2 separate regions of the Homo sapiens genome follow, and region 2 is linked to region 1. The links come from fine-mapping of genetic effects on gene expression. A gene starts in region 1. The other region holds a variant in brackets. All regions are shown on one strand. Distances are between the middles of the regions. Region 1 holds the start of SNRPF (small nuclear ribonucleoprotein polypeptide F). Region 2 overlaps SNRPF-DT (SNRPF divergent transcript).

Evidence for each region. PIP is the estimated chance that this variant, and not a neighbour inherited with it, causes the effect.
Region 2: its variant is the best candidate, but not a certain one, in a credible set for the expression of SNRPF in putamen (GTEx, PIP 0.63).

What each region holds. Positions count from the first base shown.
Region 1 is chr12:95,856,136-95,860,532 of GRCh38, forward strand. SNRPF (small nuclear ribonucleoprotein polypeptide F) reads left to right here and starts at 2,817. Exons shown (of 4, transcript NM_003095.5): 1 at 2,817-2,941. The coding sequence starts at 2,939. It overlaps SNRPF-DT (SNRPF divergent transcript), which reads right to left and starts at 2,704. Exons shown (of 3, transcript NR_135014.1): 1 at 2,619-2,704. RefSeq lists enhancers at 2,526-3,141, 2,540-2,599, 2,650-2,709, 2,830-3,059, 3,090-3,139 and 1 more and a cis regulatory region at 75.
Region 2 is chr12:95,830,191-95,834,587 of GRCh38, forward strand. SNRPF-DT (SNRPF divergent transcript) reads right to left here. Exons shown (of 3, transcript NR_135014.1): 2 at 2,827-2,894. Among named protein-coding and RNA genes, the nearest start is that of SNRPF-DT, 26 kb to the right of the region's middle. The variant A/T (reference allele first, on the strand shown) is at 1,964.

The sequences.
Region 1 (4,397 bases):
TATGAGAATTTGCTCAATATAAAGTGAAGAAAACAAGTTACAAAACTGTGTGTAGGCTGGGTGTGGTGGCTCACACCTGTAATCCTAGCACTTTGGTAGGCTGAGGTGGGCAGACTGCCTGAGCTCAGCAGTTCAAGATCAGCCTGGGCAAAGTGGTAAGACCCCATCCCTACTAAAAATTAAAAAAAAATTAGCAAAAGATTAGCTGGACGTGATGCTGCATGCCTGTAAGCCCAGCTACTCAGGAGGCTGAGACATGAGAATTGCTTGAATCTGGGAAGCGGAGGGTGCAGTGAGCTGAGATCGCACCACTTAACTCCAGCCTGGGTGACGGAGTGACACTCTGTCTCCAAAACAACAACAAAAAAGAAAAAACAAACAACAGCAACAAAAAACTGTAGATATCTTGTAAAAAAAAAAGTGCATATGTTACAGTAAAAGTTAATTGTTGTTCTCTTTGATTGGTGGGATTACTAGTGATTTTAGGTTTATTGTTTAGAACTTTCTACATTTTCCAAAATTTTGTATAATATTTATAATTAGACAAATATCAGTGACTTATGCCCACTTAATTTTAATAAGGTATTTAAGATTAAAATTTAATATGGACCAGGAATGGTGGTTCACGCCTGTAATCCCAGCACTTTGGGAGGCCAAGGTGGGTACACAGCTGGAGCCCAAGAGTTTGAGACCAGCCTGGACAACACAGCGAGACCCTATCTCTACAAAAAAAATTAAAAAATTAGCTGGGTGTGGTGGCACATGCCTGTGGTCCCAGCTACTCGGGAGGCTGAAGTGGGAGGATCTCTTGAGCCCAAGAGGTCAAGGCTGCAGTAAGCCAAGATCTCACCTCTACAATCCAGCCTGGGTGACAGAATGAGACCCTGTCTCAAATTAAAAAAAAAATTTAACATGAAAAGAAAAACCAACCTTAAATACACTATCTTTACAGAATGTGTTTACTGTAGTATTTCGTTTCACTTCACTGAGAAAACAGCTAAAGAGTCAGGCTTCTAAAACACATATTGAGTCTTTGAAAGGTAGCTTCATGAAGTAGAAAAAGCAGAGTTTTGAAACCCAGGTATGTGGTCCTGAGCAAGCTATGAGGCAGAAGAATAGCGGCTGGAAGCAGGGAACCTAGGGCCCATCCATGCTGACTGGGTATCAGAGGCTACTCCCATTTCAACCCCTCCTTTTTCTGCGTGGCAGTTGAAAAATGAAAGTACCTCTTATTGGTCCCCTCCCGCAACCAATCAGACTGGTTGTGGGCCAATGGGCAACCTCTAGAGGGTATTTAAAGCCCAGAAAATTCTATAACCAATGCTCTTGAGCCGCTTGCACCAGGCGGTGCCCACCCTGTAGAGTGTACTTTCATTTAAAATAAATCTCTGCTTTCGCTGCCCTGCTTTGTTTGTGCGTTTTGTCCAATTCTTTGTTGAAAACGCCAAGAACTCGGACAGCTACCCTCAACTGGTAACAGTTACCTGCTGGGCCTACTTCCTCATCTCTTAAACGGGGCTGTCACCCCGAATCAGACAGTAAGGTAAGATTTCCACGATTGTTGAAAAAGCCTGACACATAGTAGGAACTCAAAGTCTATACAAAGACTTAAAGTTCATAAAACAATAGACAAACGGAGAAATCCACTGAAGTTTAGGGTGAATAAATCTAATAACTGTTTGGTAAAAACTACACTGACAATCATTGTCTGGTCAGTGTTCAACATTTACGTGAAACACTGAGCTTTTACAAGGCCAAGCCCCGTTTTACGTTAAATTCTCGCAACCACCCTGAGGATGGTTCCGTTTTTAAAGCCGCGTTCCTGCCGAGGAAACAATGGCCCTCGGGGTTAAGACACTGCCCAACACCGGCCGCGCCTGATAGACGCAGGTTCCGAATGCAGGCCCCCTCCAAAGTCTTGCCCACTGCTCCACAATGCCTCAACACCCAACATTTCATCCTCAACTCCAAATCCATCTCTTCAGGGCCGCAAAAAAGCGTTACTTCCCAAAGGGCGTGTTCTCCAAGAACTGCATTTAGCATTTCAGATCAGAGTGACCCGAACTCAATAGGATTACGACAAAAACTAGTGAGATTCAGATAACACCGTTACATCGAAAGTTTTAATCCGTGACAGAGGAAATATTGCTTACGCCCTTAGGTAATTTCAAATGCACGTATGAAGGCCGTGCGGGTTTCTGCAGGCGAAGCAAAAGAAAGGTGGGGCCGGCAGGGTCGTGGGGCGGGGGTGGGGCATGACACCGTATCCCAGACGCAACTCGACCTCGTTTGCAAGAAATTCTGTATCCAACTCTCTTCAGTGCGTTTCGCCGCCCCTAGTCTAGTCTGGCTAGCCCCCAATTCCTTTAAAAGGGGTTAAAACGGGTGTTGCAGAAGAGAGAACACTCAGGTAGAAAGGGCCTGCGGCAGAGGCGCCCCCAAATCATGGAACCTGTTGGAAGAGTGAGGAAGGAACTCTGGGACCCCGAACATTCTCACGGGTGTAAAAAGACAAAGTAAATCCCCATTAGCCAAGTTGGGGAGAAGTCACATCCGTTACACAGCCTCTCCCAGACCGCCCTCTAGGAAGGACACCACATTTAAAAACACCGGCCTGCCTCCAGTCCTTGGCTGCCTCACAGCGATGCTCAGAGCCGGTTTCCCAAGGTCCGCGCGCCGCCTGCAAGGCGCAAACCCAAGCCGCTGCTGGTTGCTAGGAGATACTGGGCCAGCCATCTCCTCCAATCAGCACGCACCTCTTTGCGTCCAATCACAGAGGCAGGAAGGGCCGTGGTGGGAGGTGAAAGGTCATAGTCCTGTTTGGCGGCCATTTCTCTTGAAACTGCGGCTCGGGACCTGCGGTACCTGCTGTAGTCACGAGGGACGGGCGGCGGCCTGGTCGGCAGAGAGTAGCCTGCAACATTCGGCCGTGGTTACGATGGTAAGGAGAAAGAGAACGGCGGGAGAAGCGGGGAGAAAGAGAAGGAGGGAGACCAGCCTCGCGGGGCCTGCTGGTTCCTTCGCGCGTTTCCCATTCATCCGCGTGAGGCGCCGCGCACCCTGTCGCCAGCTCCTTTCACTCTGCTTTTAGGTTTCTGAGGCGCGTGCTCCTCCCGATGCCTTTCTTTTCCTAGGAGTGCCCGTGCCTTCTTCTCTTTGTTTGAATCCGGGCCTGGGGTATTCTTAGTTGGGGCTATAGGGTCGGGGTAAAAGTCAAAGAGAATTTGCACTTCCCACTTAACCACACTCCAGAATTCACTTTCATTCCGTGAAAGTAATGATACGGCCATGCTCTAGATTAACTCACTTGGGTGGGGAAGACAGACATTAGTCAAAAAATAACAAGTATGTAATTGCAAATAATAAGTGCTAAGAACAATGCAGACAGGAGGCTGTGAGGGTGCGCGTTAGACATTAGAGGCTTAGTCAGAGATGGCCTCCCTAGGAGGTGGAATTTAACTCGAAGCCTAAGTGTCATGAAATACGACCCTTTAAAGAGCAGGAGGAGGAGTGTACCGAGCACAGGGAATAGGAGCATAAGACCTGCGGCCGGAAAGAAAGCTTGGTCATTTGGAGAAATTGACAGAAAGGTATAGCCACTTGCGCGAATAGTGGTTAAGAGATGGTATCGGAGGAGCAGGCGTTGGGCAGGACCTCTTAGGCTGTATTGGGAGGTTTTGATTGTACTCCAAATCAATTTAAAATGATTCGGTTGGAAGCCATTGGATCATTTTAAGCAGAAATATGACAATCTGATGTGCACTTTAAAAAATCATAGTTACTGTGGTGGATAACAAATTGGAGAATGAAAACTGGAGACCCATTAGGTTATTGGAGTAATCGCCATATCAAGATCACTCCGAATATGCTCATGTTAGAGGGGGTTAGTAGCCAAGTTTCTTAGTTCTCTTCTTTGTTTGACTGGTGAGTGAGCAGAAGAGGGCAAAAACCGAAATCACTGGAGATGTTAATGGTTTGCTGAATAAATAGACATTAAGTAATTGCTGTAAGTAAGAGGCGGTGCTACTGACAAAGTCAGATAGGACCTAGCCCTAGCTTCCCCAGTTAAATACTGTCAAGCGTGATCTGCCCTCTGCTTCCTTCTGTAGTTTTATATTTGGGGCTTTGACTGACAATGCTGAATTGTATGTCCCCAAAACCACCTTGTTGCATCACTCTTCCCTCCTTTTACATAAGTAGCTAGCCTTGCCTGGAACAGCATTTTTTCCCGCTCTGGAAATAAACTCTTATCCTTTAAAACTGAGGTATTACTTATTTCAGGCAACCTTTCCTTTTTCCCCTGGATTGCTTTGGTACCCTTGTGCCTAGTATATCTCCTTTTACTACAGTGCAGCATGCAATATAATTATTTGTATGTGAGGAGTTCCCCTCCCCAT
Region 2 (4,397 bases), 26 kb before region 1:
AGCTAGATCTAGTCTTTCCATGTTTCTCTGGCTGCACTGGCTGCTGATAGATGGAGCCCACCCAGATTGAGGGTGGGTCTGCCTTTCCCAGTCCAATAACTCAAAAGTTAATCTCCTTTGGCAACACCCTCACAGACACACCCAGGAACAATAGTTTGCATCCTTCAATCCAATCAAGTTGACACTCGATATTAACCATCACAGATGTATTTACTTTTTCTGGTTCTAGTCACAAAGAAAGATGCAAGTGCACACTCAACAATGCTCCACAAATAAGATCTATCTAGTGCTACCTCATCCTAGGCTTCTTCAGATCCACCATCTCCCTACTTTACAATAATCCTACTTGTGTCCACAGTTAGAGCCAGCAATAATTAGTCACTTCACTGAAGTAGTTTAACTTTCTGTTTTTGTCAGTAGCTTTTCATCCTCAGTTTAGTCAATGGTAATTAAAATACTTCCACTGGAACCACACATATGATTAATAACTCTTACTGAAGCTGAATTAGAGCACATCATCCAACCACCACCCTTCAAAAGTTTGGATATTAATACAAAAGAAAATGAAGCTCTAAAATTGGAATGCAATGATTAAAATCAACGGTTCCTTCTCACTTATAGCCACATCATAAAAATAAGTATTTTGCACAACTTTTACTAAAATTACCTTTTCTTAGTTCTGCAATGACAAATTGAAAAAAAAAGGAGGTTGTCAATCTGTCAAAACAAGAGTTTTTAGTCATCTGTGTAGAAAAATCCTTGTCACAACACTGTAAGAATTTTAATACACAAAAGAGATAGGGAGAAGAATATATAGTAAAATATTTTAATGACATCAGGTATAGAAAAATTTAAAGAAAACAAAAAGTAGAAACTATAAAAGAAAATTAAGGCATCAAAAACATTAAAATTAAAACTTTCTGTATGGCAGAGACCCTACTGCCTTAGTCTGGGACAGTGTTTCTCAGAAGCACACAGGTAGCACCTGAGGAGCTTTGAAAAGTACTGATCCTAGGTTACACCTCCCCAAATTCTGGTTTTAATTGGTTGAAGGTACAGCCAAGGTACCTAGAGTTTTAAAAGCTCCCCAAGTGAGTCCAATGTACAGCCAATGTTGAGAACCATTAGTCTAGGAAAAGAAAGTTATAATAATCTACAAGGTATTTTTATCCAGAATTATAAAGTCTTATAGGTCAATGAGAAAAATTCAAAGAACCCAATATAAAAATGAGCAATATTTGAATAGGCAATCAACTGAAGAGAAAACTCAGACCGATAAACAAACACAACAATACTCAATTTTCTAGTAGTCAGGAAAATAAAAAAATCCAAATTACAACAAGATACCAATTCACACTAAGCAGATTGGCAAAATTAAAACATTTGTAAGTACCAAGGACTGGTAAGGGTATCAAACAACAAGAACTCTCAAAGGTGCTGGTGGGAGTATAAACTGGTACAACCCTATGACAGTTAATTTTTTTTTTGAGATGGAGTCTCGCTCTGTCACCCAGGCTGGAGTGCAGTGGCATGATATCGGTTCACTGCAACCCCCGCCTCCCAGGTTCAAGTGATTCTCCTGCCTCAACCTCCCGAGAAGCTGGGATTATAGGTGCCCACCACTACACCTGGCTAATTTTTGGAATTTTGGTAGAGATGAGTTTTTGCCATGTCAGCAAGGCTGGTCTCAAACTCCTGACCTCAAGAGATCCACTCGCCTCAGCCTCCCAAAATGCTGGGATTACAGGCATGAGCCATTGTGCCAGCCATTATAGGTAATTTTATGTGTCGGCTTCGTTAGGCTGAGGTGCCCAGTTGTTTGGTCAAATATGAGTCTAAATGTTATTGCAAATGTATTTTTTTAGATGTGATTAACATTTAAATCAATAGATATTGAGTAAAGTCAATTACCCTCCATAATGTGGGTGGGCCTCTTCCAATCAGTTGAAGGGCTTAGGAGAAA[A/T]GACTCAATAAAGAATAATTTTGCCTCAAGACTCCAACATCAAAGCTCTGCCTGAGTTTCCCATTTGCTGGACCGCCCTGCAGGTTTCAAACTCAAGACTACAACAACAACTCTTACCTGAATCTCCAGCCTGCTGGCCCACCCCACCATGCCCACAATCATGTTAGCCAATTCTATAAAATAAATCTATATCTGATTTACATCTATATACATATCCATACCCATATCTCTATATCTCTATCCTCTTGATTCTGTTTCTCTGGAGAACCCCAATTAATATAAACTAACTTTAAAGAACAATTCAGCAATATCTAGAAAAGTTGAAGATGGGTATAGTCAATTTCAACTCCAGGTATATAGCCTGTAGTCCTCAAAGAGACAGGTGAGAAATGGGATGTAGATGTGGGACTTCTATATCTTTTTTAAAAGTTGAGGGTAAGGGGGCAAAGCAAATACGGCAAAATGTTACAGCGTTTTAAATCAGGGATGGAGTATGTTTTACATTGTCATACTATTTTTGGCATTTTTGTGCAGTTTGAAATACTCCATAATTTAAATGAAAGCAATCAAGCAACTTGTGTTAAACATGGTGGTGATGGAAGTGGCCCCAACCAGTAAGCCAAACCCTAAATAAGGTCGAAGTGACGGAGAGCAGACCCAGCAGAGGGCAGGGATGGGATAGGAATGGATTTCAGGGGAAAGCGAGTAGCACTCAAGAGAGCCCCAAGACTTCTCAAAGTCTCTTCATAAACAAAAATTTCCTTTGACTTCTAAGATAGTTAGCTCATCATTAACTGCCCAGGGAAAGAATAGAAATCTGGCAGATGACATGATACCCTGAGGACATCACCGATAACACTAACCTTCATGACTCGGTTAAGGCAATGGCTTCCAGGTTTCTCCACTGTCAAGTTACTGTCTTCCTCTTTTCCTGGGGAAAAAGATCATATTTAAAAATAATTTATTGAAAATAATTAAATAAATGAACTTGCTATCCAATCAGAAGAACACTTGGATGAGTATTGCCTTACAGTGGGTTTTATCAGAAGTTGAAAGAAGATGGCACCCAGCAAGAAAAACTATACAAGGAATGGAGTGGGATGAAGGTAGAAAAAAAATAAGCAAACGATGTTGCCCATTTTCCTTCTGTTCATTGCTTTTCTACTCCCCCTTCCTTTCTTGGTCTTGAAAGTCTTTTTTTCTTCCTTTTGTTAACTGGCTCCTGCTAGGTCCAAGTATAAAGGAACCATGTCTCTATTTGTTAATCATTGTATTCCCAGAGCTTATAGTAGCCAGTGATAAATGGGTACTTACTGAAGAATGGAAAAGAAAGAGGAGAGAAGCGATAGAAATAGAAAGAAGAAACAGTAAGATAAAAGATGGGAGAAAGGAAGGAGCTTACTGATCATACCAGGTTATTAATATATTCCTTAACATTTATTTTATTTATGTTCCATGAACTCAATAATATTAAGCTATATTGATTTAGGATAGTTTCTCTAAGTTTTTTTTTCTAAAATTAGATTGTTTTCTTACTTGATGTTACCCTATATTTATATTTTTTTCTATTGAGCATTGCCCTGAATAAATAGAAGGTTTACTGTCAATTTCAACCTAAAGCAATTAATTTTGAATGGTAAATTTTCTAGCTTTCTAGGAAATGAATGGAAGATACCATTTCTGGTAAGCAAAACTTTTGGCTACCCTCAAAATGTGTATTATTTTATATTAGATCACGATATTCTTCTTTGTCCCTATGTTGGCCCCTTCTCTGGTGATGAACCAGTAGGAAAATTATCAAAATAAAAACCATAAAAACCATGTTAATATATTTACTGAATCATAAGACCTCCAGATTGAAAGAAACCTTCAGAATCTTTTTACCCATCAGACACTTGCATCACCTCTACATCCCAATAAGTGTTTTCTCCTTAAAATGGTCAAGGGAATATATATATATATTCCTCTATATATATACTGTTCATATTTATCAAGGATATATTCCTCTCTAAGTAGGACCTGGCCTGACCAAAATACTTCAAAGGTAATCTGACTGGTACACAATCTAGTAGGATTACCAATCCCTTTTTTTACTTATTCATTAAAAATAGAATTATTGCATATGATGTACATGGCATTTGTTTAGGCACTGGATATCCAGCAGTGAATTAAAAAGCCAATTCTTTCATACATATCAAGGAAGAGAAATGGAGGAATATATATATATATATATATATATATATACACACACACACACACACACACACACACACACACACATATACATATATACATACATATGTATGTGTGTGTATATATATATAGAGAGAGAGAGAGGAAGCCTATTCAATTCTTATGCACCTCTAAATGCGAACAAGCTCTTTCTTAGGCTGAGCAAAAGTCAACAATTTCCATCCTTTGGCACAGGTTATAA